7 linked regions of the Homo sapiens genome follow. The protein of the gene in region 1 purifies or fractionates together with the protein of each later gene. This does not show direct contact. Each region holds a gene or a part of one and is shown in the gene's direction. Other genes may lie near its edges. The genes, in order: TACR3, ATG2B, NUP35, PLEKHH3, DSTYK, PPFIBP1 and ATL3.

What was found.
Region 2: the proteins of TACR3 (region 1) and ATG2B purify together in Homo sapiens (affinity purification with mass spectrometry; one large-scale study listed by BioGRID and IntAct). This does not show direct contact.
Region 3: the proteins of TACR3 (region 1) and NUP35 purify together in Homo sapiens (affinity purification with mass spectrometry; one large-scale study listed by BioGRID and IntAct). This does not show direct contact.
Region 4: the proteins of TACR3 (region 1) and PLEKHH3 purify together in Homo sapiens (affinity purification with mass spectrometry; one large-scale study listed by BioGRID and IntAct). This does not show direct contact.
Region 5: the proteins of TACR3 (region 1) and DSTYK purify together in Homo sapiens (affinity purification with mass spectrometry; one large-scale study listed by BioGRID and IntAct). This does not show direct contact.
Region 6: the proteins of TACR3 (region 1) and PPFIBP1 purify together in Homo sapiens (affinity purification with mass spectrometry; one large-scale study listed by BioGRID and IntAct). This does not show direct contact.
Region 7: the proteins of TACR3 (region 1) and ATL3 purify together in Homo sapiens (affinity purification with mass spectrometry; one large-scale study listed by BioGRID and IntAct). This does not show direct contact.

What each region holds. Positions count from the first base shown.
Region 1 is NC_000004.12:103,709,986-103,713,485, reverse strand, and holds part of TACR3 (neuromedin-K receptor), read left to right. Parts: intron 1-3,500. UniProt on the Homo sapiens protein: This is a receptor for the tachykinin neuropeptide neuromedin-K (neurokinin B). It is associated with G proteins that activate a phosphatidylinositol-calcium second messenger system.
Region 2 is NC_000014.9:96,356,842-96,360,341, reverse strand, and holds part of ATG2B (autophagy-related protein 2 homolog B), read left to right. Parts: intron 1-3,500. UniProt on the Homo sapiens protein: Lipid transfer protein required for both autophagosome formation and regulation of lipid droplet morphology and dispersion.
Region 3 is NC_000002.12:183,148,443-183,151,942, forward strand, and holds part of NUP35 (nucleoporin NUP35), read left to right. Parts: intron 1-3,065; coding exon 3,066-3,207; intron 3,208-3,500. UniProt on the Homo sapiens protein: Functions as a component of the nuclear pore complex (NPC).
Region 4 is NC_000017.11:42,670,705-42,673,994, reverse strand, and holds part of PLEKHH3 (pleckstrin homology domain-containing family H member 3 isoform 1 precursor), read left to right. Parts: coding exon 1-61; intron 62-160; coding exon 161-352; intron 353-438; coding exon 439-596; intron 597-698; coding exon 699-819; intron 820-1,602; coding exon 1,603-1,909; intron 1,910-2,436; coding exon 2,437-2,644; intron 2,645-2,864; coding exon 2,865-3,001; intron 3,002-3,289; coding exon 3,290-3,290.
Region 5 is NC_000001.11:205,142,005-205,145,702, reverse strand, and holds the end of DSTYK (dual serine/threonine and tyrosine protein kinase), read left to right. Parts: 3' UTR 1-3,198; downstream 3,199-3,698. UniProt on the Homo sapiens protein: Acts as a positive regulator of ERK phosphorylation downstream of fibroblast growth factor-receptor activation. Involved in the regulation of both caspase-dependent apoptosis and caspase-independent cell death.
Region 6 is NC_000012.12:27,530,706-27,534,205, forward strand, and holds part of PPFIBP1 (liprin-beta-1), read left to right. Parts: intron 1-3,500. UniProt on the Homo sapiens protein: May regulate the disassembly of focal adhesions. Did not bind receptor-like tyrosine phosphatases type 2A.
Region 7 is NC_000011.10:63,657,877-63,661,376, reverse strand, and holds part of ATL3 (atlastin-3), read left to right. Parts: intron 1-2,124; coding exon 2,125-2,339; intron 2,340-2,414; exon of another isoform or gene 2,415-2,472; coding exon 2,473-2,616; intron 2,617-3,500. UniProt on the Homo sapiens protein: Atlastin-3 (ATL3) is a membrane-anchored GTPase that mediates the GTP-dependent fusion of endoplasmic reticulum (ER) membranes, maintaining the continuous ER network. It facilitates the formation of three-way junctions where ER tubules intersect.

The sequences.
Region 1 (3,500 bases):
CTCCCCCCACCCCATGACAGGCCCCAGTGTGTGATGTTCCCCTTCCTGTGTCCATGTGTTCTCATTGTTCAATTCCCACCTATGAGTGAGAACATGCGCTGTTTGGTTTTTTGTCATTGCAATAGTTCGCTGAGAATGATGGTTTCCAGCTTCATCCATGTCCCTACAAAGGACAACTCATCATATTTTATGGCTGCATAGTATTCCATAGTGTATATGTGCCACATTTTCTTAATCCAGTCTATCATTGATGGACATTTGGGTTGGTTCCAAGTCTTTGCTATTGTGAGTAGTGCCGCGGTAAACATACATGTGCATGTGTGTTTATAGCAGCATGATTTATAATCCTTTGGGTATATACCCAGTAATGGGATGGCTGGGTCAAATGGTATTTCTAGTTATAGATCCTTGAGGAATCGCCACACTGTCTTCCACAATGGTTGAACTAGTTTACAGTTCCACCAACAATGTAAAAGTGTTCCTATTTCTCTACATTCTCTCCAGCACTGGTTGTTTCCTGACTTTTTAATGATCACCATTCTAACTGGTGTGAGATGGTATGTCATTGTGGTTTTGATTTGCATTTCTCTGATGGCCAGTGATGATGAGCATTTTTTCATGTGTCTTTTGGCTGCATAAATGTCTTCTTTTGAGAAGTGTCTGTTCATATACTTTGCCAACTTTTTGATGGGGCTGTTTGTTTTTTTCTTGTAAATTTGTTTGAGTTCTTTGTAGATTCTGGATATTAGCCCTTTGTCAGATGAGTAGATTGCAAAAATTTTCTCCCATTCTGTGGGTTGCCTGTTCACTCTGATGGTAGTTTCTTTTGCTGTGCAGAAGCTCTTTAGTTTAATTGGATCCCATTTGTCAATTTTGCCTTTTGTTGCCATTGCCTTTGGTGTTTTAGTCATAAAGTCCTTGCCCATGCCTATGACCTGAATGGTATTGCCTAGGTTTTCTTCTAGGGCTTTTGTGGTTTTAGGTCTAACATTTAAGTCTTTAATCCATCTTGAATTAATTTTTGTATAAGGTGTAAGGAAGGGATCCAGTTTCAGCTTTCTACATATGGCTAGCCAATTTTCCCAGAACCATTTATTAAATAGGGAATCCTTTCCCCATTTCTTGTTTTTGTCAGGTTTGTCAAAGATCAGATGGTTGTAGATGTGTGATATTATTTCTGAGGGCTCTGTTCTGTTCCATTGGTATGTATCTCTGTTTTGGTTACTGTAGCCTTGTAGTATAGTTTGAAGTCAGGTAGCGTGATGCCTCCAGCTTTGTTCTTTTGGCTAAGGATTGACTTGGCAACGCGGGCTCTTTTTTGGTTCCATATGAACTTGACAGTAGTTTTTTTCCAATTCTGTGAAGAAAGTCATTGGTAGCTTGATGGGGATGGCATTGAATCTATAAATTACCTTGGGCAGTATGGCCATTTTCACAATATTGATTCTTCCTACCCATGAGCATGGAATGTTCTTCCATTTCTTTGTGTCCTCTTTTATGTCATTGAGCAGTGGTTTGTAGTTCTTCTTGAAGAGGTCCTTCACATCCCTTGTAAGTTGGATTCCTAGGTATTTTATTCTCTTTGAAGCAATTGTGAATGGGAGTTCACTCATGATTTGGCTCTCTGTTTGTCTGTTATTGGTGTATAAGTATGCTTGTGATTTTTGCACATCGATTTTGTATCCTGAAACTTTGCTGAAGTTGCTTATCAGCTTGAGGAGATTTTGGGCTGAGACGATGGGGTTTTCTAGATATACAATCATGTCATCTGCAAACAGGGACAATTTGACTTCCTCTTTTCCTAATTGAATACCCTTTATTTCTTTCTCCTGCCTGATTGCCCTGGCCAGAACTTCCAACATTATGTTGAATAGGAGTGTTGAGAGAGGGCATCCCTGTCTTGTGCCAGTTTTCAAAGGGAATGCTTCCAGTTTTTGCCCATTCATTATGATATGTGCTGTGGGTTTGTCATAAATACCTCTTATTATTTTGAGATACATCCCATTAATACCTAATTTATTGAGAGTTCTTAGCATGAAGTGTTGTTGAATTTCGTCAAAGACCTTTTCTTCATCTATTGAGATAACCCATGTGCTTTTTGTCATTGGTTCTGTTTATATGCTGGATTATGTTTATTGATTTGCGTATGTTGAACCAGCCTTGCATCCCAGGGATGAAGCCCACTTGATCATGGTGGATAAGCTTTTTGATGTGCTGCTGGGTTCTGTTTGCCAGTATTTTATTGAGGATTTTTGCATCAATGTTCATCAGGGATATTGGTCTAAAATTCTCTTTTTTTGTTGTGTCTCTGCCAGGGTTTGGTGTCAGGATGATGCTGGCCTCATAAAATGAGTTAGAGAGCATTCCCTCTTTTTCTACTGGTTGGAATAGTTTCATAAGGAATGGTACCAGCTCCTCCTTGTACCTCTGGTAGAATTTGGCTGTGAATCCATCTGGCCCTGGACTTTTTTTGTTTGGTAGGCAATTAATTATTGCCTCAATTTCAGAGCCTGTTATTGGTATATTCAGGGATTCAGCTTCTTCCTGGTTTAGTCTTGGGAGGGTGTATGTGTCCAGGAATTTATCCATTTCTTCTAGATTTTCTAGTTTATTTGCGTAGAAGTGTTTATAGTGTTCTCTGATGGTAGTTCGTATTTCCGTGGGATCAGTGGTGATATCCCCTTTATCATTTTTTATTGCGTCTATTTGATTCCACTCTCTTTTCTTCTTTATTAGTCTTGCTAGCAGTCTATCAATTTTGTTGATCTTTTCAAAAAACCAGCTCCTGGATTCATTGATTTTTTGAAGGGTTTTTTGTGTCTCTATCTCCTTCAGTTCTGCTCTGATCTTAGTTTTTTCTTGCCTTCTGCTAGCTTTTAAATGTGTTTGCTCTTCCTTCTCTAGTTCTTTTAATTGTGATGTTAGGGTGTCAATTTTGAATCTTTCCTGCTTTCTCTTGTGGGCATTTAGTGGTATAAATTTCCCTCTACACACAGCTTTATATGTGTCTCAGAGATTCTGGTATGTTGTGTCTTTGTTCTCATCTTTATTTCTGACTTCATTTAGTTATTTACCCAGTAGTCATTCAGGAGCACGTTGTTCAGTTTCCATGCACTTGAGCAGTTTTGAGTGAGTTTCTTAATCCTGAGTTCTATTTTGATTACACTGTGGTCTGAGAGACAGTTTGCTATAATTTCTGTTCTTTTATATTTGCTGAGGAGTGCTTTACTTCCAACGGTGTGGTCAATTTTGGAATAAGTGCAACGTGGTGCTGAGAAGAATGTATATTCTGTTGATTTGCGGTGGAGAGTTCTGTAGATGTCTATTAGGTCCACTTGGTGCAGAGCTGAGTTCAATTCCTGGATACCCTTGTTAACTTTCTGTCTTGTTGATCTGTCTAATGTTGACAGGGGAGTGTTAAAGTCTTGCATTATTATTGTGTGGGAGTCAAAGTCTCTGTAGGTCTCTAAGGACTTGCTTTATGAATCTGGGTGCTCCTG
Region 2 (3,500 bases), on another chromosome or scaffold:
TCTTACTCATTATTAAAGTGCTATCTTTATTTTGAAAAGACAGATTAAGTATGTTTTGTTTTTTGGAAAATATCTGCTAGGTAGCATGTACTACTGATAGTCATTGTCATAAATACATAAATAGTCAGTGGAGAATTCTTCTCTGTGTAAAAGGAAAATGCTTATCTTTAAATCCAACCCTTAAACACTTGGCCATAGGAGAAACCAGGAAACCAGAAGGTAATTGCCATTCACTTTCTCTTTACAAAGATTCTACTGTTTAAAGGTCTGGTTTTATTCTATAGAATGTATGTGGAAATGTTTCAGTGTGCAGAAGTGGAAGGAACATCCAACTGAGGGCACCACTCTTAATCCTTCTCTGTTGTGGAACTACTAGTTTTCTCTTTGTACCAGTTTGATATGTGGCTTGAAGGAAGGTGCCAGTGCCCATTTGTATATTAAATATAAGTACAACTTTTCAATCTAAATTTGGAAAATTTAATATAGAATGTCTCATTTTCCTCTCACATCCTTATGAATCATCTGATAATACTTTAGGATATATGCATCCAGTTTTGGAGATTACTACCTTAAACGTGGCATGAAGTGGAGGGAGAAATAGAGGCAAGGGGTTTGGGATTGTTCCATCATTGGAATAGACTGTCTAAAAATTTCATAAACTCCTTGTCCCTAGAAGTGGTTGAAATGGCAAAATGTTGAAAGGAGGAAATTCTATTTGGGGTGGGAAGTTGGATTTAATGACTCATTCCTTTTTAACTCTATGACTGTGCCTTTATTTTTGATTTTTAAATGGAATTTCTTTCATTAATCGATTCAGTACATTTATTGAGCTCTTAGCATGTGCCACTGTGAGGGGCTGGGGGATATAGCAGTGAACTAAACAAAGACCCTTTTCTTACAGGAGCTCAAGAAGATACACATTAACAATTTATTACACTGAGGCCTTTTATTTTATTTTTTTTTTGAGACAGGGTCTCACTCTGTCACCCAGACTGGAGTGCAGTGGCGTGATCTAGGCTTACTGCAGCCTCAACCTGCTAGGCTCAAGCGATCCTCCTACCTCTCCTCCCCTCCCTGCAGTAGCTGGGACTACAGGTGCATGCCACCACACCTGGCTACTTTTTGTATTTTTTGTAGAGACGGGATTTCGCCATGTTGCCCAGGCTGGTCTTGAACTCCTGGACTCAAGCAGTCTGCCCATGTCGGCCTCCCAAAGTGCTGGGATTACAGACGTGAGCCACCACGCCTGGCCACTGAGGCCTTTTAACTTCAGTTTAAGAATGTTTCGATTGCTGCTTATATTCTCTTGGTGTTTAATAAAATTATCTTCAGTTCAAGAAACATTGATTACTGATTATTTGTCAAAGGTCACCTGGAGACTAGAGTGTTACCTTCACTTTTTCTGTTTATATGCGTGAAACTCATTGATGATAATTGAAAGCAAAATACCCTTAAACAGAAGAATAAAAAGCTCTAAAGGACTCTATGGTGGGGCATTTATTTGCTGAGTAGTTCAGGTGTCTCCACTTTTAGTTTAAGAGTTATTTTCTCGTTAGCATAGTGGTGACTAAAAAAAAAAAAATACTTGATAGGACTGGTGAGGAAACACTTCATAGGACTGGTGTGGAAAATGTTGCTTGAGCCAAGTAGGTTGAGAATTTTTACTACTCATATACTATAGTAGCCTTGGATTTTCCCAGAATGACTGAATTTCAAGGTACCTTATGCTACAAGATATATGGGATTTTGCTCAAGTGGTTATAAGACTGGGCATAAATATAACCTATTTAAACATCTTATACTTAGGGAAATTATTTTGTAGCTTAGTGGTGCAATGTAAATTCTGGAACTGTTGACTCTCCAAAACTGTTAACATTTATCAGTTTTTTTCTTTTTTTCCTTTTCTTTCTTTAGAGACAGTCTCTGTTACCTAGGCTGGAGTACAGTGGTGTGATCAGCTCACTGCAGCCTCAAACTCATGGGTTCAAGCGATCCTCCAATCCAGCCTCCTGAGTAGGTGGGGACTACTGATGTACACCACCACACCCAGTTAATTTCTTTTAATTTTTGTAGAGACCGGATTTCACTATGTTGCCCAGGCTGATCTTGACCTCCTGGGCTCAAGTGATCCTCCCACCTCAGCCCCCCCCAGTTTCTGGAATTACAGGCATGAGCCACCGTACCAGGCCCCTTTAATATTACTCTTCACTGCTGTAATAAACCTTTTTGTATTTAGAGGTTTAACTTTATTTCAACTTCTCTGCCACAAAATTGGGACGAAAACTTGGTGTTTACTGAGAAGAGAGTTCCATCAAGTCCCGTTTCTCTCATAGTTGTCTAAGGTTGACAGTTTGCAGAAGCTAAGTCATTGCCTCCATATGTTTTAAACACTGTTAGGTTTTTAATAGTTCATTTTTACTATACAATTAATATATGCTCATTACAAAAAATTCAAACAGTAAAGAAATATATGAGGTATGAAGTAATAGAGCTTAATCCCATCTCTTCCAGAGATAACAATATGGTACAAAAGTTTCAAACTTTTAGTTGTGGAAATACTTAATACATGAAGCAAGCAGTTCTACTTACCTTTTGAAGTCTTTTATGATGGGCCATTTTTTTAATGGAATGTGTCAAACATTCTTAAAAAAAAAAAACTATGAAAAAATCTGAAAAACACAAGTAGAGGGAAGAACCTTGATGACCGTAACTTGTGGTACCTAGTTGATGGTGAAATAGGAAATTCTAGAGAAGGAGCAGGTTTTCTCCACTGTCTGGAGTTGGGAGTGGGAGGAGGAGATTGAGATTGGACAGAGAATAAGTTTTACTATATTGATTTTTGAGGGGGCTTTAGAATGTGGGGGCTTTAGATCCAGGTAGAGAAGCTCAGGAGGCACTGGGAATATACGTATAGGAAGATTGCAGTTGTAAAGATATGGGAGTTATCAGAGTATCAATAGTGAATAACAGTGGCAGGAGATGGAACTGCACAAAGTGCGTGGGTAGTAAGTAGATCAGCTTGAGAAACAAAAAAGGCCGAAGATGAAACTTAGATGAACTCCAACATTTTAAATTGTAAAGGATCAGAAAAAAGATTGAGAGAGTGAAGTGTTACAGAAGTCAAGGGAAGTTAGAATTTCAAAAAAGGTGAGTGGTCCTAGGAACTAGGTAGAGATGAGAATTCAATAAAGATGAGGACTAAATATTGTTTATTGCATTTGTCATTTTAATGGTGGTTACAAGCAGTTTCAGAGGAGCTGAGGGTTAGAAGGTCGCTTGTAGTTTGCAGTTTGAGCAGATAACTACCTTGACAGAGAAAATGGGGTTGATGGCTAGGGGGAACATGGAGCAAGGTTAGGGGTTTTAGTTTACTTTTGAAAATAATAATGATCATTTATTAAATACCTTCCATCTCTATATACTGTACTGTGTGGGTGCTTTTACATACATTATTTTACTCTAAATTGGGTACTAACTTTCTGTTTACTGTGAGGTTAAAT
Region 3 (3,500 bases), on another chromosome or scaffold:
TTCTCTGCATCCTCGCCAGCATCTGTTTGTTTTTTTGTTTAACAATAGCCATTCTGACTAGGGTAAGGTGATGATGTAGTTTTGAATTGCATTTCTCTGATGATTTGTGATGTTGAGCATTTTTTCATATACCTCTTAGCCATTTGTATGTCTTTTGAAAAATGTCTATTCATGTTCTTTGCCCACTTCTTTAACAGGTTATTTTTATCAAATATATCTATAGATATATTTCGAGATGGAGTCTTAAACTCTGTCATTTAGGTTGGAGTGCAGTGGCATGATCTTGGCTCACTGTAACCTCCACCTCCCAGGCTCCAGTGATCCTTCCATCTCAGCCTCTCAAATAGCTGGGACCACAGGCACACACCACTACGCCCAGCTAATTTTTTGTATTTTTAGTAGAGATAAGGTTTTGCCATGTTGCCCAGGCTGGTCCTGAACTCCTAACTTGGCCTCCCAAAGCGCTGGGATTACAGTCACGAGCCACAGTGCAAAGCCAAGCTTTTTATCACAGTAGCTTTTCCCCCCACCTTCTATAGATAATCTTTTTTGTTTCTTAAGAACATACTTGGAGAAATCCATGTGACTATAAACACTTTGGAATGAGTTAGGATGGTTTTCAACTCATTTGGGAATTAAGGATAAATGGCAAGTCAGGAGATACATACAATAGTTAGAATATGTTAAGTAGCCTCTAGAAAATCAATAAAAATGGAGCATGACTCATGCGCATTGACCTGTAGAACAGTGGTTCTCAAATGTCTTAGTTTTGTAGTTTTTACCTTGTTTATACTCTTAAAAATTAAAGAGCTTTTGTTTATATAGATTATAGCTATCAATATTTACTGCATTCAAAATTAAAACAAAATTTAAAATTTAAGTATTAACTCATTTAAAAATAAAGCTATTTCATATAAACATAATCTTTTTTGAAGTGAACAGTAACTATTTTCTAAAGAAAAAAAGATTTGCAGGAAGAGTGACATTGTTTTTGTTTTAAAAATCTTTTTAGTGTCTGGCTTAATAAAATACCTGTGAATTCTCATGAATCTGCTTCTCTTTTCAACCTGAGTCTGTTGAATCACATGAAGTTGCCTCTGGAAAACTCCACTGTACACTAATAAGAGACTGAGAAAAAGGCAAATGAAACTTCATGTTTTTGTGAAAATAATTTTGAGTTGGCTGATCTCATGAGAGAGTCCTGGGGGAGCCAAGAATCTCCAGACCACACTTGTAGTACTGCCACAGGAAATAAACATGTTAACTAGATTACTGCCTCAGAGCTCATGCTTTGGATTCCGATTGCCTGGATTGGAATTCCAACTAACCTTCTGGATGTTATTTAATATTATCCTGTTTCCTAATTTGTTAAATGGACTAATTGGACCTTTTGTAGGATTGTTAGAATTAAATAAAATTACACTCGTAAAGTGTAATAATCACTTAATAAAATGCTACCTTTTTTTTAATTTTTTTATTTTTTTGAGACAGAGTCTCTCTGTCACCCAGGGTGTAATGCAGTGGTGCTATCTCAGCTCACTGCAACCTCCGCCTCCCGGGTTCAAGCGATTCTCCTGCCTCAGCCTTGAGAGGAGCTGGGATTACAGGCATGCACCACCACACCTGGCTAATTTTTGTGTTTTTAGTAGAGATGGGGTTTCACCATGTTGGCCAAGCCAGTCACAAACTCCTGACGTCATGATCCGCTCGCCTTGGCCTCCCAAAGTGTTGGGATGACAGGTGTGAGCCACTGGCCTGGCCCTTAAAATGCTACCTTTTACTATCAAAGTTTTAGTCCTGTTATGTCACGCTTGCTCAGATTTTTCTGTTGGTTTTCTACCTCGCTTAGAGCTTTAGCTTTTACAGTGGCTTTATAAGGTTTTTCTTCATGATCCGGCATATTGCTGCCTCTCTGCTCGCATCTCCTTGTTCTCATCTCACATCCCCCTCACTGTGCAAACAGTGGCCTTCTTGCGTTCATCTAAGACCAATCATGTCTTTCCTCATGGCCTTTGTTTTATTATTTTCTCCACAAAATGTTCACTTCTTCAAATATTGTTTTGCTTCCCTTGTCCTTCAGGTTTTTGCTTTAATGCACCTCAGTGAAATCCTTTTTCATTTAACCCACCCACACAAATTGGCCCTGTCTCCCTTCTCTGCTTTATTTTTTTTTCTCTGTAGGATTTTTAGTTTTGTAGCACATTAAGTATTTACTTATTTGTCTCTCTTTCGCTAGAATGTAGGCTCCAATAGGGATGGATTTTTTGTTTTTATTTGTCTAATGTGTTTACTGCTATACCTTCAATACCTAGGTTGATGCTTGGTGCATATTTAAGTGCTGATAAAATATGTTTTGAATGAGTAAATCATTATTGCTACTGTGAAGATGAAAGGGAAATAGTCTTTGCTTCTCTCAAATGTATAGCCTTAATTGGACATTGCTTCTGATATAAAATGAACTTTATAAAGTGTTTAGCATGGCATGTTGGACACACAGAAGTACTCAATTGGTGGCTGTTACTGAAGAATAAGAAATAAAAGGATAAGACATTTTAGAAAGAAATGACCTGAATAAAAGAAAATTGCATTCACATTTTAAGGGGTAAGGTAGATATTGTTTAGTGCATACTGGAAAAGTAAGGTTGCAACTGTATAGCTGAGGCCAAGGCATTCGGATTTTGTTCTGTGGGTAATACATTTTTACATGTTCTTAAGGCAGAGGTGCTGTGATGAAAGTGGTAGGTTTGGAAGATGAAACCAACAGAAGTCTTTGAGGTTGCCTGGGATATCCTTCTGGTGTCAGCTTAACCAGACATGCTTAATAAAACATTTAGATAATTTATCATACATAATAAAACATTTGCAGAATTATAAACTATGCCCAATTATTACTTCCTCTAATTGTATGGTAGCATGAAATTGCTATTTGACCACAGTTGTATGTTTTGAACTGTTTATGTAATTGCCAACTTTATTAGACTTTATCATTTAAAACTAAGATTTTTGATTTAGAATCAATCGAGGTGTTTACACTGGCAACTAACTTGCTAAATATACTAATATAGGGCAAAGTATGTTTAGTCCAGCAAGTATCGGTCAGCCACGAAAGACGACATTATCTCCTGCCCAGTTGGATCCTTTTTATACTCAAGGAGATTCTTTGACTTCAGAAGATCACCTCGATGACTCTTGGGTGACTGTATTTGGGTAAGGTTTGCAGACCATTTGCCTTTTAAAAACCCCACCCTAACATTTTATAATGAATATAATCAAACATACAGTAAAATGGAAAGAAGTGCATAGCAAACACCCATATTACTACCACCTAGGTTCTATGGTTAACAGTTTGCTACATTTGCTTTGTCATTTATCCATCTATCAATTCATTCTTTTTGTTGGTACATTTCATAATAAGTTGTAGACATCAATACATATTACCCTGACACTTGAGCATGCATGTCATTAACTAGAGTTTGATATTTGTTTGTAGTTTTTTAAAT
Region 4 (3,290 bases), on another chromosome or scaffold:
ACTTGGAGCCTCATCCCGGAGAAAGGGCTGCCGGAGGACGACCCGGACATCGTTGTGAAAGGTAGAGACCCCCCTCAGTGCACTCTGGAGGCCCCCAATCCCAACCCCCTAGGGATTAATGTCTCTACTGATGTCCCTTCCCTCCCTCTCCGGCCCCCAGGTTGGCTGTACCGGGAGCCCCGCGGAGGAGGGGCGCGGCCCTGGCTGCCCCCGCGCCGAGCCTGGTTTGTGCTCACGCGGGACTCCCTGGATCAGTTCAGCAGCAGCGGGAAAGGGGCGCGGCGTCTCGGGAGCCTCGTGCTCACCAGCCTGTGCTCGGTGACCGGCCCAGAGCGCAGGCGTAAGGAGACAGGTGAGACCTCCTGGGGACTCTCCTACCTTCCTAGGCAGGGGCCCCGGCAGACCCTAATGGCCCTCCCTGGCCTCTCTTTTCCCCAGGTCTGTGGTCAGTGACTGTGTCTGGTCGGAAACACAGTGTCCGCCTCTGCTCCCCACGCCAGGCAGAGGCTGAGCGCTGGGGGGTGGCATTGCGGGAAGTGATCGCCTCCAAGGCACCCCTGGAGACCCCCACCCAGCTACTGCTCAGGGACATACAGGTACACACCAGGGAGAGCCAGGAGAGTGGTGGACCCCAAAGCTTTCTGGGGTTGTGAGGAACTCCCTTCCCCATCAAGGTGACCCTCTCCCTGGCCCCCTAGGAAAGTTGCGGGGACCCAGAGGCCGTTGCCCTCATTTACCTGAGGAACCCGATTCTGAGACACACTAGTGGAGCCTTGTATGCCCCACTCCTGCCCCTGCCCTATGGAGTCAGCGCCCCAGGTGAGTGGTCCCATGGCCCAAGTCCCCTGGATGGGATGGGGTGGTTCAGAGGTAAGAATCTGAATCCCTTAACTGGCAGGGATCTAAGCATCCTTCATGGACCTGCCAGCTCCTCACTTTTCGAAGGATGAAGGTGAAACTGGAAGCTGGCCAGGGTGGAGGAGAGGAAGCCAGCACACACAAAAGGGCCCCCTTTGGCCACCTTCTCTATGGGTCTCATTCTGACTACTGATGTTCCTTCAGGAGTTTGTACACTCCCCTATTTTTTCATTATCCTCTTGAGACTATGCCATATTACCTTTACAAGTGGTAGAAAAGCTACCACTTTTGTAGAATGTGCTGGCCTCATCCAACTGTACTTCTCCCTAAACGGTGTAGTGACTGGCCCAGGTCCTAAAGTTAGAGGATTAAAGGGTGCTGGGAGAGGAACCCCGGTTTTCTGACTCCTAGTCCAGCCTGTTTTCTGACCTATGGTGGTGAGCCTCAGTATGGAGTTACAGAATCTGGGGTGTGAATCTACAGCCCTTCCCGGCCGTCCGTCTCCCTAAGTCCAAATGCAGGCTTAGTGGGATTGGGAAGGGGATTCCTGGGAGGCAGAGGTTGAGAGTCTGGCTCCGTGGGACCACTGCTTTCCCTTCACTCTTCCTGTCGTTCGTACCCTCCCCTCCCTGCCACCCCATCCCCTTATATTCCCTCTGACCTTCCCCTGGTTCATGCCTTCCTCCCAGGGCGCAGCTCTGTGTCCCCTCTCCAAACCGTCCCTCCGCCCCCACCCTCCCACAGGTCCGGGCTATGCACCCCTGCGCGAGGAGGCGGTGCGGCTGTTCTTGGCGCTGCAGGCGCTGGAGGGGGCGCGGCGCCCCGGGCCCTTGATGCAGGGTGTGCTCCAAACCTGCCGGGACTTGCCCGCGCTCCGGGATGAACTCTTCCTGCAGCTGGCTAAGCAGACCTCGGGCCCTGCAGGTCCCCCCGGGCTCCCGGCTACCCAAGACCCTGCGGCCCTGCGGTACTGGCAACTCCTCACCTGCATGAGCTGCACCTTCCGACCTGGGGGAGCTGTGCGGGGGCACCTCCTGGGGCACTTGGAGAGGTGAGAGGGGCGAGGTGGGGGTTACGGCCTAGGCGAGGAGCTACCGGGCTGGGAGAGAATGAAAGGTCTTTTGCAAAAGACTTGGTAGGTAAAGAACCGAGTAATACATACAGTGCCTTTGTGGGAGATACAAGATCCTATCGCAGTTGTGAGCGGATGAATTACAATAAAACGCCCCCCTTGGGCTGAGGAGTTATGAAAAGGCTGCTTTTCCTCCAGCTGATGCAGGCCAGCGCCAGGGCTTAGGAAAATGTAGTAAAGTGGCTGGATTTCGATTTCAGGCCGAAGGAAGATCACGAAGACTTTTGGAAGTGGTGGAGGCAGTTGGGAGAAAGCTGCCAGGGGACTTGAAAAGTAATTCAGCTCTATGCAAAGCACTGGGGAGAGATTTAGAAGAGCCTTCAAAGAACTTGAGTTGGGGCGGGGAGGAAATCGGCTAGATAAAATAAACTATAAGAGAAGCAGGCAAGAGGGAGGGGGAGAAGAAAGCCCTTGGAGTATTGATCCCTGGGTTCCTCCTAACCCAGGACCGAGCAGGCACTCCCGGACTCGGAACTGGCGGAATATGCGCGCTTCATCCGGAAAGCGCTGGGCCGGACGCGCGGCAGAGAGCTGGTGCCCTCGCTGGCGGAGATTTCCGCGTTGAGCCAACGGCAGGAGCTGCTGTGTACCGTGCACTGTCCGGGGGCTGGTGCCTGTGCTGTGGCCATCGACTCCCACACCACGGCGGGGGAGGTGAGGCCAGAGAAAGGCCCCATGACCTCCAACCCACCCTGCCAGCTTCTCACGCCTGTCTCTCCCTCTTCCTGGACCCTAGGTTTGCCCCGAGTCTAGATTATTTTGGTAAGGGAGGGAGTGGTGGTGACAGGACTAAGAGACCCCTTCCAATTGAATCAACCCCTCCCAGAATCCTGGCAAGACCTCTGAGTGGTCTCCCCTCACCCTCCTCTTCTAGGTGGCTCGAGAGCTGGTGGGGCGGCTGGGCTTGGCCCGGAGCCGCAACGCATTCGCGCTGTACGAGCAGCGAGGGGCCCAGGAGCGAGCCCTGGCTGGGGGGACCCTCGTGGCCGACGTGCTCACCAGGTTTGAGAAGTAAATGTCCAGCCCCAGCCCTGCTCTCTATTAGCCCATCCACTTCTCAGCTGAGGTCAGTCTCTAAGCGGACATTATCCAGCGCTTGCCCCTGGCCCTGCGCTGTGGTGTTCGCTGGTTTACAGACGGACCTGCCCGCCGCAGGTTTGCAGTCCGACTGCAGCATCACCTCCGCTGTCGGCTCCGCCCAGGCCCCGCCCCAAACACATGGCCCCGCCCCCACCCCAAGCTGCCCTCGCCGTAGGGGTCCGGCTTCTCCCTAGCGCTTCGTCCGCTCCTCTTCTGCAGC
Region 5 (3,698 bases), on another chromosome or scaffold:
TTGCAAATTAGCCGGGCATGCTGGCACGCACCAGTAATCCCAGCTACTTGGGAGGCTGAGGCAGGAGAATCACTTGAACCCGGGAGGCAGAGGTCATGGTGAGCCGAGATCACGCCACTGCACTCCAGCCTGGGCAACAGAGCGAGACTCTATCTCAAAAAAAAACAAAAAAAAAAACAAAAAACAAAGATGAGTCGCACATCTGCTGCTGGGATTTTCTAGGGTTGTCTATGACAGAATGACCATCTTTTAAATATTAATGGAGTATAAATGGAGTCTATAATGGGTCTTTCATATAACTTTTAACTCTTTGGCTATCCTGGGCTCTGATCATGATATGTTTGAGCATAGTAGCTCCCTAAACTCTTGGAGCCTTTCAGAAATTCCATGTAGTGCTAATAACCTTTTTACTTGCAAATGATAAAGTAACTGACTCAGTGTCTTTGGGCTCTGCAGGCTTTAGCCTTGTTTTGGTAGGATGTTCAGTATATTCTCAGAATTTTTACCACCTATTTAGCTATACTTCAAGTACTCTATTCTCTGCACTAACTTACTGTCCTTCTGGGAACTATGATGGGGCTTCAAGGGAGTCAGGTGTCAAGAAAGGAGGGGTAAGTACTCTCTACTTGCTGGAAAATCATTGTAAGTCTGTTGTGTATGAAATTTTAGGAAAAGTCTTATATAGTTCCCTTTCCAGACTGTTTTCTTTTGACTCTAACTATAATCATAAGTCTGTGCTTCCATTATGAAGGTCACATTCCTAGCATTCTTGGGAAGTATTAGCTCATACTCTCATTCACATATGGGAGGTTAGATTTTTTTCCTCTACCCAGAGTCCCTTTTTAGTTTACCCCACGGCTTAGTTTGCTGTCAGATACCAGTTCTCTAGCAGATTCCCCAACAGTTTTTTCCCCAGTGGGGAGGGTGGAAGGGAGGGACTGATATAAGTAAGGAGATGAGTAGTTGTGTTACAGTTCATTTTCTTTAAAAAAAAGTATTTTGAGAAAAGGTGCAAAATATTCTTGAAAGTCTCTAGGCCAGCCAAAGTCCACATATGGATATTTGGGGATGTTATTTAAATACTCAGCAGGCTGAGTGCAGGTATACGTGTGTATAGAGTGTGTATACTTTGCTTTTGTTTTATAACATTGTCAGCTAATTTTGGCTTTGTTCTTTGGCATCCATTCTTATTATAAGTGATGGAATGCCATGAAATGTACTGTATTGTATATTACTTGGGAGGACACTAGGTTTTCAAAGAAGTCTGGCAGCACTTGGGTTATAGAGGGCTCAGCATGACCAAAGTCCTAAAGATTTTACCTCCCAGCTTTGGTTGTATGTGTTCCCAAGTGGTGAGGTGAGATTGTGGCTGGAGGAAGAAAAAGGATGGCATGAAAGAATGACCCTTATTGTGGTCTGTCCTTCTAATCAACATAATTAGGGCAGCTTACCCCAACATGAAAATGATGACCTGGCCATTTTTAATGGCCAGAGCTTGAAGTCTGGTCTCTCATTTTGTTTCAGAAATGAGTGAGAGGCCTTCCTGCAGAGCAGTCAGGAGAAATGGTGGAGCCTGGGGCCCTGGAATGGCTGACCCTGTGCCTAGAGAGCTGATGGCAAGGGCTGTCTGGCATGGCTCATTTGGGTGGGGTTTCCCCAGGCATACCTTAGTTCCCTGATCCTCTGCAAAGAGTAGCTCATTGACTGAGCAAGCGCTTCAGGAGGACTGTGCTGGTTGTTCCCAGACCAAAGAGAGTCACTTTTGACTCCATCAACTTCAAGGGGACAGAGCCTAGGCAGCAGATTCTCCTAATTTTTAACACTAAAATTCAAGGAAGCAGTGGAGGAAAGAATGCATTACTACCACAGATAGAAATAGGGGACTCATAGAACTCTCGACTAGTACCTGTCAGCTCTCAAATGCATTCTTGTGTCTTTGCTTGAGCTGCCAAAGAAGGGTCACAAAGTGTTCTTCCTCATGGAAGAAGTGCCTCGGGGTTGCAGGGCTGCAAAGTGACAACTGCACTGAATGACACTTTATTTTTTGGCTTTGGCTTATTATTTAGCACTGGGAGGCCCAGGGGAATTGGTGATTACAGTAGCACTTTGGGAAGTTAAAGCCCCCTTTGGGCTTGCTTTGGAGAGATGATGGCATGCTTGGTATTCCATTTGGATAATCAGGAAGCCTCCCTAGTCCATCCATATTGTGTCAGAGTGGGATTAACAACCCTGGAAGAGTCCACTGCCAAAAGAGTAGTTGCTTTCCTGGAATTTCCAAAGCTTTTGGATTTTCTGGATCAAGTAACCCACTTTTTAAAACCTGAGGTCAGGAGTTCGAGACCAGCCTGGTAACATGGTGAAACCCCGTCTCTATTAAAAATAGAAAAAATTAGCCAGGCATGGTGGCGGGCACCTATAGTCCCAGCTACTCAGGAGGCTGAGGTAGGAGAATTGCTTGAACCCAGGAGACAGAGGCTGCATTGAGCCAAGATCACACCACTGCACTCCAGCCTGGGCAGCAGAGCAAGACTCCATCTCAAAAAAAAAAAAAAGAAAAAGAAAAAGAAGGTTAATCCTTCAGTTATGGAGGTGGGATGAATAGAGCTTGTTTGATGTTAAAGTGGGTAAGGAGGGAGTGGCCTTGAGACACTTGTATTCCAAACTCTCCTGGAGGTTTCCAGTAGCACTACTGTTCCTAAAAGGGTTTCATTTTTAACTTCATCTGTTTTGTTAACATCCAGTCCAATTGAGGTGATCTCAGAGGTGCATCAGGACATCTAGCACTGGGGAGGCCACCTTGCCCAGATAGTTGAAAAGAAAATTGGTCTGGGCAGCCTGTTGTCTTTTGTCTTCATGTAATGTTTTTTCTTTGTTTTAAAGGACTAATGTTTATTACAGTGTTAAATAAAAGTGTAAGATACTAAGTGTGTAGAATAAAAGTGCAATAACAAAAGACAATGACTTTGGCACACACTTCAGTCTTTATCCTCTCTCCTTTCTTGTGCTACCTGGCTCTTTCCATAATATTGTTACAGCAGGACCGTCTTAATTGTGTGCATTTTGAAGAGATGCGACTCTGGGTTAATCTTCATTAGTGTAATATTGAAGGGTTGGGTTTGGTTTTATAGAGTATTCTGTATACTTGTTGGGATACACAAATACCAGATGTGCTGTATAATAAAGATCACATTAACGTTTTAGGTTTCTATCTGTTTGGTTTTGGTTTTCCCTTACCTCACTACCCATAGTAACAGGACGTTCCCTAATCCATTCCATTTCCACTGGTGACCTTCAGTCAGATGTCTTTCAGTTTGCCTTAGGAGAGATGGATGGAACATGTTCCTCTCCCATCAGGGGCCCTCCCCAGCCACCATGGCTCTTGGCCTCTGGGTACTTTACATCATCACTACTGAAGGGTGGGGCAAGGGAATGGGAGATAGGATAGTGGAGAAAAGGGGTGAGATGATAGTCATGTATCTTCCAGAGCCTATCCTGGGTGACATGCTTTTTTCCAGCTTCTTTTAAGCACGAACCTGCAGCATTGTGAGTTCATATATGAGCCTAGCTACTCTATTATAATACATGGTGAGGGAACTGGGCACATAATCTTACGCTGGCCTATCTGCATGTAGTGTATTTTGCATTTTCTATTTAGGCTCACCCCAGTGCTGAGATTTGCTTGCTCAGCAGTGCCTGAC
Region 6 (3,500 bases), on another chromosome or scaffold:
AGGTGGTTCAGTGACAGTAGTCCTGGCTGATGAGATGTAAATAGCTGGATGCCCCGTTCCCCAAAGCTCTTAAAAGGGGAAGCCTCTGTGAGCTTGCCTGTTAAGCCTTTTGCTCTTTGTACTTCTTCCCTGGAGAAAGTAAGCAGGCCATCGCGTGACCAAAGACAAGATGCTTGAGGGTTAAGGATGAGTGGGTGGAAGGTTAGAAGGAGGCTGAGAAGCTGATAGCATTCTGCAACTGCTCTACTGGACCCATTTCTTGACTCTGTGAGAAAAATAAAATCTCTACTTGGTTAAACCACAGAACTTGGGTCAGTTACTTGCAGCCAAATGTGATCTTAACTGAGTCTAGATGTCTAAAAATCATAGTTCATCTTTTCTTTAAAAATAAAAACGTGTTATTTTGTACGAGAAAAACAGGACTTTGGAGCCATGCAGATCCTCAACTTGAATCCTGGCTTTGCTATTTATTACAGTCTAATATTGGCAAGTAACTTAACCTCTCTGGGTCTCAGCTTTCTCATCTATAAAATGGTAGCTCTGATATATGTGCCATAGCATTTTTTGAAGGATTAGAAATAATTAGAAATTATTATTATTTTTTTTTGAGACAGTCTCGTGCTGTCACCCAGGCTGGAGTGCAGTGTTGCAATCTCGGCTCACTGCAACCTCCACCTCCTGGGTTCAAGCGATTCTCCAGCCTCAGCCTCCCAGGGAGCTGGGATTGCAGGTCCCCACCAGCATGAGCAGCTAATTTTTTTTTTTTTTTGTATTTTTAGTAGAGACAGGGTTTCACCATCGTGGCCAGGCTGGTCTCAAACTCCTGATCTCAGATGATCTGCTGGCCTCAGCCTCCCAAAGTGCTGGGATTACAGGCATGAGCCACCACGTCCGGCCAGAAATTATTAATAGGAATAATAATGGCATATTCAGCACATGGAAGATCTTCAACAAATGGTGGCACTGTTACCAAAGGGAAGTGTAGTGGGGAGTCTGAAAGGGGGAGGCAAAGAATTCAGCTCTTTCTCCTAGAAGGTTCTCGGTAGGTTTATAGCTACAATCCCTTGACTCCATCTACTTGGCATTTATTCCGCCTCCTGTCTCTTATCCTCATTCCCACCTGCCCACACCAGACTACTTGGAACTCTTCTGTTTTCCAGCTTTGGTTTATAAGGATGTCCTTATAAAAATTTTATTAACTATAGCATAGGGATGAAGGGCGGGGACTCCAGAGTCAGACAGATGTGGATTAGAATCCCCTGTTGTTACTAGCTGTGTGATTTTGGTTAAGTCTTCTGTGAAATGGGAATAATTGGGTGGTTATGAAGATTACATCTGATAATGTATGTGAAGCACTAACAGCTGGTTTCTTGGCACACGACATGCACTGCTTTGATGACAGATATTGTTGTTACTATTTCATTAAGCACGTGTTAAGCAATTCCCAGCCTTGGTACAAGATCCTCTTGGAGACGGAAAGACAAACAAAACATGATCTTTACCTTAAGAGTATTCACATACAGGAGATGGGGGCAGAAAGAGATGGCACACCTTATTCATAACTGTAATAAAATGCAGATTTAGAATACTGTTTAGCTGTTAAAAAGATTGAATATACTGACTTGTACAGATGTCTATTATATATATTTTAAGAAGTAAAAAACCAAGCACACGTGTATGGTTTACATTTGTCAGTGCATGAAAAACTGCCAAGTGGGATGGCTTATGGGAGTTGGGATGAAGGGAACTTTGTATTTTTTTTTTTTTTTACAGTATATTACATCTATATTACATTACTCGAGAAATACAAAATATGTTAAAATTTTAAACATCTATTTATTGGTCCTTTTGGAGGTTGGTTGGGGAAGAGCATTCTGTGAACTAGACTAGTCACCAGAGCAAAGGAAGAGACTGGGTTTCTTGAGGTTTCATTAGAAGAGGTGGGATTTGACTGGGTCTTAAAGGGTGGGGAGGAGATTTTGAGGAGGCAGTGGGGACAGATGAGCATACTTGGGTTTGGAGCAAAATGTAGAATAGAGTGAGATTCGATTTAGAGAAAAGAGAGAACAATATTGTTTGAAAAGACGTAAGCTATATTGGGGCAAATCTTACAGGGTTTTAAAGAGAGTGACAAGATTGTACCTTAAAACAGGATGTTTTTAAGAAAAGAAGAAGTAAGGGAACTATTGTTTTATAAAAATGACTCTGGAAATAGCAGATTGGGTATTTCTAGTGGGTATATGGGCAAGGGGAGGGAGAAGGACAGAACACCCTAAATCAAGAATGGCCCGTATACAAAAGTTAATTTTCTTTTAAAGATGATGTCTTGCTATGTTGCCCAGGCTGGAGAGCAGTGGCTATTCACAGTTGTGATCATTGTGCACTCATGGGCTCAAGCAATCCTTCTGACTCAGCCTCCCGAGTAGCTGGAACTACAGGGACATGCCTCCATGCCTGGCTAAGTGAAAGTTGAATTTTAATGGGAAATATGAGTTAAGATTTGAACATCTGGAGTTTGAAATTCCATCATGACCCACATTATCCTTAATTTTCTCATTGTATAAATGGATAAAATAATAATACCTATCTTATCAGGTTTTTAGGAGAATAACAATAATAATAGGTAACACTTACCTGGTAGGTTATACTTTTTATGTACCAAGCACTACTCTAAGCACCTTAAATATTTCAACCTAGATTAATCCCATATTACGATGAGGAATCTGAGGCACAAGGAGGCTAAGTAACTTTCCCAGGATCACACAGATCATGTGTGTCAGACTCAGAATTTGAACTCAGGCAGGTGCAGCTCCAGGGCCAGTATCTTCAGCCTCTTCATAGTCCTACCTCTGGCATGGTTCTGTACTTGGGGTGTTAAAAGCCAGTATGAACTGTTAGTTGACATTATTCATATGAAGATGTTAAGCAAGAATTTAGAAATTTAGGCTTGGAGTTTAGGCCAAAGCCTGGACTAATGGATCATCTCTATAGGGCTGTTATGTAAAGAGTGAGAATGGTTGAGCTCCCCGAACAAGAGTATGTAGAGTAAAAAGAGAAGCAAGCATACAGTCTTCAGGGGACTCCTGATATTTAGAAATGGTCAGGCAAAAAAGAAGTTAGGAGAGGAGATAGAGCAGGATCTGCAGAGAAGTGGAGGATGATGGTGGCCAAGGGAAGAAGCACAACGTAAGTGAACTAATCATGCCATCCAGTGCAACAGACTCGTTACAAAGCTGTATCCAACAGACTGTCCCTGGTCCTGCTGTCAGGTCAGTTCATGAACCTGGAATCCAGAATGCAAAAAATTGAGGACTACACGGGGGCTGATGAACTGCAGGTGGCCTGGTTAGTTCATCCTTTCAAGGAACTGATCCGAGAGAGACATGGTAGATAGCTTGGGTTTGAGGAAGGCTCAGGTAGAGAGGAGGATATTAAAAGAAGAAAAAGGGAGGAAGGAATGAGTGCATGGTCCAGGGTAGAGAGATGGGGCTAGACCCAAA
Region 7 (3,500 bases), on another chromosome or scaffold:
ACTATAGAATTAATAGCTTCTAAAACTTTTTGAGTTATTACTAGTGATATGCAAAATACAACCACCTAAAGATCTTTTTGAGCTTATATCTAGGACCTGTTGGGCAATATGCTGAACCTTCATAAGCCTTCATTTCCTTCTTTTTTTTTTTTTTTGAGACCAAGTCTCACTCTGCCACCCAGGCTGGAGTGCAGTGGCGCGATCACGGCTCACTGCAGCTTCTGCCTCCCGGTTCAAGCAATTCTTCTCCCTCAGCCTCTTCAGTAGCTGGGACCACAGGCGTGCGACACCACGCATGGCTAATTTTTTTTTTTTTCTGTATTTTTATAGAGACGGGGCTTTACCATGTTGGCCAGGCTGGTTTTGAACTCCTGACCTCAAGTGATCAGCTTGCCTTGGCCTCCCAAAGTGCTGAGATTGTAAATGTGAGCCACTGAGCCTGGCCATTTCCTTCTTCTTAAAATGGAGCAGTATTATTTACATCAAAGAGTTGTTCTGAGGATTAAATAATATATATATATGTGTATATATATATCTAAATAAAGCTTAGCAGTGGCAAACACTATTATTGATAGACATTGTTTTATTTCCACTTTTGGACTGTTTTGAGTAAAGCTGATAATGAACTTTCTGTTTTTGAGATAGAGTCTTGCAATATTGTCCAGGTTGGTCTTGAACTCCTGGGCCCAAGTAATCCTCCTGCCTCAGCTCTCCAAGTAGCTGGGACTATATGTGCGAGCCACCATGCCCAGCTCAACATTCTTGTATATATGTTTTTTGGTGGACATAGGCATTCATTTCTCTTAGGTGTATACCTAGGAGTAGAATTGCTGGATCACAGATATATTTAATTTTTGTAGATACAGCCAAACAGTTTTTTGAAGTGGCTTTAGTATTTTGTGCTCCTATCAGAATGTGTGAGAATTGCGGTTGCTTCATACCCTGTCCCACAGTTGATATTGTCAGTCTTTAAATTTTAGCCATTCTGATGGGCAGGTAGTGGTATCTTATTGTGGTTTTAATTTAGATTTCCCTGTTAAGTAATGATATGGAAGTACCTTTTAATAGGATTTGTATATCTTTTTCTTACAAAGTGCCTGTTATTTTTTTCTTATGGATTGCTATGTTGATGCTGGATGTGGGTCCTTTGGAAACAGATATTGTGAATACTCTTCCCTAGCCCATGGCTTGCATTTTTACTTATTGAAGTCTTTAAGTGAACAAAGTTTTTAATTTTAATGAAGTCTGTGTTGTCATTTTATTTTCTTTTATGGATAGTACTTTTTTTCTTTGAGACAGGGTCTTTTTTTTTTTAACAACATTTTATTTTATTTATTTTTTATTATTATTATACTTTAAGTTTTAGGGTACATGTGCACAATGTGCAGGTTAGTTACATATGTATACATGTTCCATGCTGGTGTGCTGCACCCATTAACTTGAGACAGGGTCTTATCTGTCACCCAGGTGGGAGTGCAATGGCATGATCTCGGCTCACTGCAACCTCTGCCTCCCAGTTTCAAGTTATTCTCGTGCCTCAGCCTCCCGAGTAGCTAGGACTTACAGGTGCGTGCCACCACACCCAGCTAATTTTTGTATTTGTTGGTAGAGATGGGGTTTCGTCATGTTGGCCAGGCTGGTCTTGAACTCCTGACCTCAAGTGATCCACCCACCTCGGCTTCCCAAAGTGCTGGGATTACAGGGGCGAACCACTGTGCCCTGCCCTTTTATGGTTAGTATTTTTGTGTCCGTTTTTTGTTTTGTTTAGTTTTGTCACCCAGGTTGGAGTACAGTGGTGTGGTCATAGCTCACTGTAACCTCAAACCCCTGGGCTCAAGCAGTCTTCCTGCCTCAGCCTCCCAAGTAGCTAGGACTACAGGTATACACCACTACATATGGCTAATTTTTTAAATTTCATAGCGCTGGGTTTCACCGTTTCCCAGGCTAGTCTGAAACTCCTGGCCTCAAGTAATCTTTCTGCTTTGGTTTCCCAAAGTGCTGTGATTATAGGCATGAGCCATTGAGCCTGGCCCTGTCCCCTGTTTAAGAAGTTTTTGTTTTCCCTATATTCAAAAACATATTTTAAATATTTGACACTGATTTTTTTTCTCTGCATGAACATAGATGATGCCATGGAGAGCAGCAAGCCTGGTCCAGTGCAGGTTGTTTTGGTTCAGAAAGATCAACATTCCTTTGAGCTAGATGAGAAAGCCTTGGCCAGCATCCTCTTGCAGGACCACATCCGAGATCTTGATGTGGTGGTGGTTTCAGTGGCTGGTGCCTTCCGAAAGGGCAAGTCCTTCATTCTGGATTTTATGCTACGATACTTATATTCTCAGGTAAGATAGAATTATTTTATTTCAAGTAAAAAGTGAGACTTTAATGTCCAAAAAAGCGAAATAAGCTCATAGATTATCCTTGATGCATAAAATTTTTAATTTAAGATTTAATAGAAATTTCTTACTTCTGTAGAAGGAAAGTGGCCATTCAAATTGGTTGGGTGACCCAGAAGAACCGTTAACAGGATTTTCCTGGAGAGGGGGATCTGATCCAGAAACCACTGGGATTCAAATCTGGAGTGAAGTTTTCACTGTGGAGAAGCCAGGTGGGAAGAAGGTAAGGATGAAAATGACCTTACAGATTAACAACAACAACAACAAAATATGAACTTCAGCATGTACTGTGTTAACCCAATTAAAAACCTTTTATCAAAGAATTTAAAATGGGTAAAGTAAGAAAAGTTAAAAAGTCCCTGTTTTGTCCTGAAATTTTAGTCTGTTGTGGATAAATAGGATTTTCTGACACAGGTATGCGAAGTTGTAGCTCTGATGTCTAGCTGTAGTCTCCTTGGTCTGCTGATTGCATTATTTTAATTTTCTTTTCTGGAAAAACATTTTTGCTAAAAGCTATACAGACTTTTTTGTTTGTACCTAGCAGTACTTTATGTAGTATTCCTTAGGGCTATGTAGCATTTTTAGACTCAGTTAAAAAATATTAATCTGTTGCTGACTCTGTTAATTCCTATTTCAACATGTGTTTCCTTGAATAATTCAGGATACAACTTACTGTGTATGACAGCTTTCCTTCACACACTATTTTTGTGGGTGTGTGTATATCCAACTTGGGGAGAATTTAAAAAACACATAGCTTTTTAATTTGTTTGAAACAGACCTTCTGCCTGTTACATTTTGTGCTCTTAACCAATTAAAGAAGCCAGTGGCAGCCGGGTGCTGTGGCTCACGTCTGTAATACCAACACTTTGGGAGGCCAGGGTGGGCAGATCACAAGGTCAGGAGTTTGAGACCAGCCTGGCCAACATAGTGAAACCCTGTCTCTACTAAAAATACAAAAAATTAGCTGGGTGTGGTGGTGGGTGCCTGTAATCCCAGCTACTTGGGAGGCTGAGGCAGGAGAAACGCTTGAACCCGGGAGGCAGAGGTTGCAGTGAGCCGAGATCACACCACTGTCCTCCAGCTCGGGCGACAGTACGAGACTCCGTC